Linked DNA regions of Homo sapiens: regions 1 and 3 are each linked to region 2. The links come from fine-mapping of genetic effects on gene expression. A gene starts in region 2. Each other region holds a variant in brackets. All regions are shown on one strand. Distances are between the middles of the regions. Region 1 has its middle 58 kb from the start of RAMP3. Region 2 holds the start of RAMP3 (receptor activity modifying protein 3). Region 3 has its middle 54 kb from the start of RAMP3.

Evidence for each region. PIP is the estimated chance that this variant, and not a neighbour inherited with it, causes the effect.
Region 1: its variant is fine-mapped to the expression of RAMP3 in whole blood (INTERVAL, PIP above 0.99).
Region 3: its variant is fine-mapped to the expression of RAMP3 in nucleus accumbens (GTEx, PIP above 0.99). The same link has a PIP of 0.9 or more in lung.

The regions. Positions count from the first base shown.
Region 1 is chr7:45,214,511-45,217,269 of GRCh38, forward strand. No RefSeq gene overlaps it. Among named protein-coding and RNA genes, the nearest start is that of RAMP3, 58 kb to the left of the region's middle. The variant A/G (reference allele first, on the strand shown) is at 1,256.
Region 2 is chr7:45,156,391-45,159,149 of GRCh38, forward strand. RAMP3 (receptor activity modifying protein 3) reads left to right here and starts at 1,401. Exons shown (of 3, transcript NM_005856.3): 1 at 1,401-1,496. The coding sequence starts at 1,439.
Region 3 is chr7:45,210,070-45,212,828 of GRCh38, forward strand. No RefSeq gene overlaps it. Among named protein-coding and RNA genes, the nearest start is that of RAMP3, 54 kb to the left of the region's middle. The variant G/C (reference allele first, on the strand shown) is at 1,059.

The DNA of each region.
Region 1 (2,759 bases), 58 kb after region 2:
AGAAGTGAGGCAAATGGTTATTTCTTGTGAGGCTCCCATTAGTGCTCAGTAAATCCACATTTCACACATGAAAGGAGGGAGTAGAGGAAAAAGTCAATTATGCCTTCCTCTCAGGGTAGGTAGAGGGATGATTTCTCGTCTTTCTTCGCACCTGTGAAGATAAGCTGGTAACTGATATTGTCAGGGTGAGATTCAACAGAATTCAGCTTTAGGGCTAATTTACAGGAAAGGGGCATATATCCCGAAAGACTGAGGGGTTCACGAGGAATTTACTTGTGAGCAATTTGTGAGGGAGGCCACCTGGGGAGATATGTGGCCTTCCATCTGGTGGGAACCTGGCTTATGGATGAGGCTATGACACAGGGTTGTGAAATTACAGCGATCTGTTTGGGAACAAAAGGAAGACTGTATCGTGTGACTCAGATCCCAAGCTTAACTCTCCTTTTGGCATAGTGAGTTTGGGGTCCTGAGATTCGATTTTTTTTCTCGGTTTTGTAATTGTACCTCTCCATTTTCAGTCTTGAATTCGTATGACATCCACCTCTGTAAGTGGTGTCATGTATAGAGTCAGGCTTTGCTTGTCTCAGGAGTGATTTCCCCAGTGCCACCTCTGGAGCTGTCCTCTCTCCTCTGCTCACGGTGTCTCTGTCTTACTCCAAGCTCCCCATCCACCTGGGTCTTCTCCTTGTCTGTCCTGAACCCCGGAGAAGCTGCTGTCACTAAAGGGTTGAAGCGGTTGAGTGCCTGGAGGAGTAAGTCCTCCCTGCTCTTCCTTTTCAAAAGTGTGGTGAGCTCTCTGCAGATCTTTCTTGCCCCATATCAACTACAGAAAAAGATTGTTCAAATTCTTCACAAATCCCTGCTGGAATTTTGCGAAGGTTGGTATGAATTTGTGGTTTATACAATTGCAGGTTTACATGTGCTCGTGTGATGGTTTGATGGGGTCTTATCTTCTGTAGTGGACTGAGCCCAGGAGGGCAGGGGATGTGTCTGCTTCCTACATCCTTGGCTCCTCAGCATTCACGCAGCATGTGGGTTGCAAAAGTAGCTCAACAACGATTTGTCTCTGAAAGCTGCTGAACTGAGTGTGAAATGATATGTCTGTGACAGTACTCAGCAAACCAGGAGGTGGCTCAGTGAGCGGTCCAAACCACCTGCTTCAGCACCAACTTGGGTTCACTTCTGTTTCTCTGGCTTCCTGGGAGGTGGGGGCTGGGCTCCCTCATCCACATCAGGAGCCTTTGGGAGGGTGAAC[A/G]TGGTGATGCCAGCACACAGGGAGCACTGTGTGTGTCGCTCCCAGTGCTATTGCTGAAGCCTGCCTGGGAGTAGGGGATGCTAATTCCACTTAGAAAACCATCTCCTTGATAGCTGATGCACATCTGCTGGCAGGGCCACCCCAGGCGCACTCCACGTGCTTTGCCATCTGTGTTAGCTCAGGCTGCCTTCTCCGTGTGTTTTCACATGGGCGGGGAGGGAAGAGGGAGAGAGAGAAAGAAGGGGAGGGAGGGAGAGAGAGAAGGGGGTGGAGAGAGAGAGAGAGAGTGCGCGATCTTCCTCTTTCTCTTCTGATAAGGGCACTTATTCTATCAGATTAGCACTCTGCCCTTATGACCTCGTAATTTAACCTTACTTAGCTCCTGAAAGCTCTATCTCCAATACAATCACACTAGGGGTTAGGGCTTCAATGCCAGAATTTTGGGGGACATTCTTCAGTCCACAGCACTATCCTACAGCACAGGACACGGGAATGGAAATGTGTCCCTGTCAGTTTTGCCAAGGGAGGTGAGGGACTGGATGCACAGCAGAGGGTCAGAGCCAGTGGTGCTCCTCGCTCTCTCACACTCACGGAGAGCCTGATGAGCTCCTCCTGCTGTTTGAGGACGCTGTGCTCAGGGAGGACCTGGGGAGCATCCTCACTTGCTTCAGGCACTGCCTGGCCAGAGGAGAGCAAGGCAGTGCCTGTCCCACACCCTCCACCTGCATGCCTGCTGGCTGCAGCCTGGAGAAGCTGGCGGCTCCTGGAAGGAAGAAGGAAGCTGAGCGCCAGCCTTCTCGCTGCAGGTGGTCCCCACACAGGGCCACTCAGGGCGTTTTGGTTATTTTGATGGACCGGCCATTTTCATGACTATGGACTGTTTAGGACCAGTGTGACTTTTGTTATCTGAGAGTGACCGGAAAAGTGAGGACCTGCCTCAGTGGGCCTCTGAGGGTGAGGCAGGGATCCCACTGCAGGGGATGCAGGGCAGTGGGGCAGAGAGAGGCTGAGTTTCCATCGTGCCCACACACCCACCACCCCAAATGACTGCATCCTTGGCTCCTCGGTGGGAAGTGCTTGGTGCCAGGGAGCCGGGCACTGAGGGCTCTTTCCTGGCAGCTTTAAAAGGGTCTGAGCCACAGAGTTCCCGGGAGCCAAAAAGTCTGGTCATTCCATCGTGTGTGAGCACGATGGAAACTCAGCTTCTCTCTGCCCCTCCAGCATCTGGCCAGCATCTCACAGCCCTTGGAGGGCTCAGCACACTCCTTCACACCTGGCTCATGATGAGCAACACCTGGGAGCCTCTAAGCTACGCCAGCAAGCGCTTCCAGGCTCAGAGAGGGGATCTGGGCTCACGCCCGAACCCCAGGAAGGAGTGATCAAGTGCCTTTCAGTGAGGGTTCCCTGTGGAGGGAGCAAAGGAGGAGCTGTTGGCATCCTAGAAAACCACAGCAGAAATGGGCGCACCCTCCTCTCGTGGCAGAGGTGGGGAGGCTAAGGCCCA
Region 2 (2,759 bases):
TTGAATTAATTCTGGCTGTAATCAGAATTTCTTCAGTAAAAAAGCACAGAAAGTTCTTCTCCCGAATAAGGGTCTTGTTAAATAAAGTGGGTCTTTCTAAGCCAGGAGAAGTTCAGCTCAGCTCCTGGGAAGGTAGCAGTACCTACGGCTCAGAGGAGTGGAGGGCCCATCCATGTAGGAGCCTGGGCCTGTGCCCCAACCTCAGACCAGCATGTGCCCCCAGGGGTGGTGGGTGGGCCCTGGAGGGCAGAGAGGTGCCTCTAGCTGGCTCTCGGAAGTCCTGACCAGTGACAATTCTTAAGACACCATTAAGTGTCCACTGGAGCCAGGGCCTGTGCTAGGGGCTGAGGGTGACAGAGGTGACCCATCTGGCCAAGTGACCTGTGGCTGGAGAAACTGAGGCCCTCCTTCGCCTCAGGGACCCTGACACTCTTCAAGGCCAGGTCTTTGGTGGTGCCAGATACTCTCCTGTCCCTTGGTTTGCTTGTGGCTTGGTTCTTGGTGTGTGATACGTCTCTGTGTGTGTAGTTGCCACACCCTCCAGTCTCTCTCATACACACTGTTTCCCAAGCATACACTCACAAACACACCTTGTCTCAGACTCAAACACACACATGCCACACACACACCATACATCACACACTCCATGCACACACATGCATCTACACACACCCCACATGCACATCACACACACGTACTCCATGAACAACACACACACGCACACACACAGACGCACACACACACACCCCCCAACCTCTTTTATGCACTTTCCTGACCTTTGGAGACCTGGCTCCTAGATGTATCTCTGCTCAAAGTTCCCCTCCCTGCCTGGGGGCAGCTCTGGACTCTGGTCTACTTTCGGCCAGGGCACACCTAGCCCACTCCCAGGTCCACCTTCCTCCAGTCTACCCCCAGACTCCTCTAGGCCATCATCAGCCAGCGCTTCATCCTCACCTCAGCTCCCTCCCCGGTCTACCCCCACCCTCTGCCCCTGAGCCTGGACGGAAGTTCCCCAAGTCTCTCCAGCCTGCATCCCAGCCCACCGTCAGCCGGCCCCCACGCTCACCCCAGCTCACCTCCCAGTCTGCCCCTACAATCTGCTCCCAAAAAGCTCCTTTGCAGCTCAGCACCCCAGCCCCGCCCTCAGAGCCCATCAGCCGGCACCCCACCTTACCCCAGCTTGTCCCCAGCTCGAAACCCTGCCCTCGCCCCCCTCTCACCCCGCTGAGACTCCAGCCGCCCCCATCCCTCCCACCCGGCGCGCCTGCAGGGACTGCACCCCACATCTGGAGGCAACGGGGCACGGCCGCAGGCGTGGTCTGGGGGTGCGGCCTGAGGGCGGACCCCCTGAGGCCCCGCCCCACCCCAACCCCAACCGGGCGTCCCCCAGCCGCGCCCCCAGCGGGACCGAGCGTGACCCAGCTGCGGCCGGCCAGCCATGGAGACTGGAGCGCTGCGGCGCCCGCAACTTCTCCCGTTGCTGCTGCTGCTCTGCGGTAAGGGGGCGACGGCCCGCACCGGGGGCGCCCCCACTCCTCGGGGTTCACCGGACCCGGGTGGACCCGCGCCTTCCCGCACCTGCGCCGCGGTCCTTCCCTTGCCCCGGAGCTCGGGAGGGGCGCACAGTGACCCTGGCGGGATTCCCAGGCTCTGCGGGAGGGTTCCACCCGGGAGAAGCTGAAGGCGAAGGACTCTGGCGGGCAAGGGAGGCACAGGGCCCCCTCCGGGGTCTTCTGACGGCAGGGTCCGGCAGCCCCCGGTCCTTCTAGTTGTGATGTCCCCCCACGCCCCGGTTCTGGGGTCGCCTCAGGGTGGGCGAGAAGAGGTGGACCAGGTCTGGCTCTTTACCCCTTATCCCCCAGGGTGGGCTGTCTGTAAGGTAGTGAGCTCTCTGTCCTGGCATTGAGTGCCTGCCCACCACTCACAGGGGCGTGGGCGGGTGGACTCCGGACTGGGTAGCTGGTCCTCCCAGGGCCCCTCAGTGTGTGGACGCCTGTGTGTGTCCTGGAACTGGCTGAGAGGGGAAGCGGGGCGACTCTCTGAGCCATCCTCTCCTAATGCCTTCTTCGGCAAGAAATCAGGACTCTAGGAAGAACCATTGCTCACAAAATGGAAATAGATTAAACTAAAAGCTTGTTTTGAAGTACCTTGCTAAAGAAATTATCCAAGAAAAAGTAAGAGAGAGAGAGAGAGAGAGAATGTGTGTAAAGGCTGTTGGGGAAGAGTGCTTGCTGAGGGCTGGGGTCCACTGAGTGGTGACTGAGCCTGGCCAGTTCTGGGGGGGACATTGGTGATGGAGGGCCCTGGCCTGGTGGTCCCCAGTTTCCCTGGCTGTAAGATGCAGAGTTGGGCCTGTTTTGATGATTTGGGATTTGGTACGGGAGGTGGGAAAAGGGTGGACCAAACTCAGTGGTCATTTTCCTTCCATTGAAGAGGTCTTGGTGTGCAGAACTTGTGTGGCTTCATTTGGTGTTCCAGGGCTGGAGCCTAGGATGTGGTGGATTTTGTGTTGAAGTGCAAAGGTGGATGGCAGCTTCTGAAATCAGGAGCATGCTGATTTGGGATTTCAGCAAACTTCCAGTGAGCGCCCCTTAGGTGGAGATCTTGGTCGCTATAGTGGAAGGAAGGTCCTCTCAATTCATTCTGGGAGAAGCTGAGGCTTTCCTGATCATCTCCAGTATCAAATTGAGAAGGACCACAGGCTTCCGCCTGCACAGAATCCCCCCTTAATAATCCTGTCTCTCGTGGACCCAGTTCCT
Region 3 (2,759 bases), 54 kb after region 2:
GGAGGTTGAAGCTGCAGTGAGCTGTGATCGTGCCACTGTTGCCTGGGCAACAGAGTGAGACGCTGTCTCAAGAAAACCCAAAATCCAAAACCAAAAAACAAAAACCACTGGAAATGCATATACGTTTGACTCATCAATTTCACTTGAAGAAATTCATCTTACTGATACACTTGCACATATATATCTGTAAGGATATTTATTGCAGCAAAAGCTAGAGAGCAACTTAAATGTTCAGGAACCGAATTCTAGTTAAGTACAAATGCAATGTGGTCCATTTGATGCGTGTTGAGTGGGGATAGTCTTCCCTGTGTGTTATCGGGTGAAAAGACCCAGGTGCAGAGACGTTATGCTTCGTGGCCCCTCCTAGACCCACTCAGTGAGGGGACAGATGCCTGGGGTATGGGCGTGGAAAGAATACCCACTCTTCATGATATGCCTTTTTGTAGTCCTTGAATATTAAACCATGTACATGTATTATCTATTTCAAAAATGAGTATTTAAAAATGTGTTGCTGAAACCTATTGAATTCCCCTAATAGCCCTCCCCCAATGCCACATCCAATCAGTCTTCAAACCCTATTGATTCTACCATCTAAATTTTTCTCAAATGTGTTCCCACCTTCTCTCCATCCTCTTTCCCATCTCTGCCTCCTACTCTGCTGCAAGGCCCAATTTAAAGATTTCCTCATCTGTAAAGTCTCCCTGACCTCCTCCCACCAGTATGAGTTCTGTTCTAGACACATTAGGTTTGAGGTATGTTGGGTTCACATCTAAATCTGAAGCTTAGGTGAGAGATTTAGGCCAAGAGCTAGATGTGGGAGTCATTAGGTACATTTTGTGACTGCATTCTTGAGCGCTTGAGTTAATGCGTGGCTACCAGAAATGACAGGATTTTTGTCTGGGACTGCAGAGTGGAAGCTGTTGTTTCTGGGACAGAGTCTCATTGTTAGGTGTAGTTGCTCCCAGACCTTCAATTTGATATTGGTCTCTCAAACAGTTGCAGGAGCTATAAAACACACCAAGTTATATCTAGCAGGATTTCCTGTTCTTGCCCAGGGG[G/C]CCACACTACATGTGATTCCCCTAAAATTAAAGGATATTATCCTGGAAGCCCCACCTATGCCTGGCACCGTGCAGGACTTGACAGAGAGGAAGCTCATTAGAAGAAGGTGGGTTTCCCTCCATTGTCTCCTGAGATGTTCCCAAGAGCTTTCATTTGAAAAGTGTCCACTCATGACGCAACTGCTGTGTGATCCCCACTAAGGTCAGCTTGGGCTGTGTGGGCAGCAGCTTTGAGGGAAAGCTCAGATGATCGTCTGACCTGGTGCCTTCACTCTGTGTGGCTCTGATGTCTGGATGTAGGAGAAAGCTTGGCACTGCCCGGGGATTGACTGAGGGCCTGAGAGGGTAGTGACTTTTAAACATTGGTGTTTACAAGTCAAGGCGGAGCCATTCTAGGACATGAATTTTGAATGTAAAATCCTCAAATTTGTCCTGGATGCCTACCATTGCTTCATGTGATGGCCATACTTTCTGCCCTGGGAATGAGTAGAAGCCCTGAGATCTGACACATCAGACTGAGGACTGGCATGGGAATGGCTGCTGCTGTGGGAGTGCTGAGAAGTCACCTGTCTTGGGCCATTTGCTCATTTGGTTTCCTCCTTCCTTCTCCTCTGGCCTAATTAACATCTCATCCTCCCGTTCTGAGCTCCTCACCTCCCCAGAAAAGCTGATAGGCCCAAAGTCTTCTGTTTCACATGCCCCCTGTAGCATGAAGTATACTGGTGGCCATTCAAAACATTAAACCAATGAATTTTTATTTCTCCCCAGATCATGTAGTCCTGTGGCTCCCACCTACTGATTTAATAACACTCAGATGGTGGGTAGGACACAAATGCCATTGCTTGGCTTTGAGTTTTGAGACTGACTAGGATTTCTAGTGAGGCAAGAGTCTAGCAGGCCAGGCTCCATTGTGCTAGGACAGGGAGGTAGAAATTTCACACCTCCCATTTTGTGTGGAGCTTGGAGGTCTGAGGACACAGGGCATGATACGAAGAAGGGGAAATAGGAACAGAGGGTGCAGACATGGGCAGATTCTGGCAGATTGCCCTGTATGACCCCAGTCCTTCTCCCCTTTCTTCCCCAGTTGGGAGAGAACCCCAGGCGGGTGGTAGAAACTCATGGATGGGAATTTTGTTAAGTGTGGTGGAGTAACATTCATTTCCCCAAATTCCACTCAATGAACAGAGAAGGAACATACAAGGACAAAGAGAATAAAAAAGGGAATGACAGCCAAGGAGAGATGTCAGCAAGATTTTGGGAGACAGAAAGTGGCTGAACTTTGCAGAGTGAGGGAAGGTGAGACCTACAAACCTGGGTGGGCCAGTGGGGAGCAAGCCATGGGGCCCCAGACCCCAGAGAGGCTCAGAACTGGAGGGAAGTGAGGACGCTGGCCCAGGTGGGCTGTGGGCTGGTTAAGTCCCTGAGCCTTGTCCCACCCTACAGGAGACCTGCTGGGGTGGAAGGTGAATAAGTGAGACTGTGAAAGGTGAGCTCCAGCTGCTTTTCTTGCTGGGCTTCTAGAATGTTCCATTCCTCCATATGCAGACTGGAAAATCCCCCTTCCTACGCTGAGAAAACTGATCAACTCAGAGGACAGAGCTGTGGATGCTGCCCTCTGGGGCTCCCCTGGGAGGTTGTGGGGCAGGATGTGATTGTCCCATCCATGGCACCTCAGTGCCCAGGCCCCGCCCTCTCCTGGGG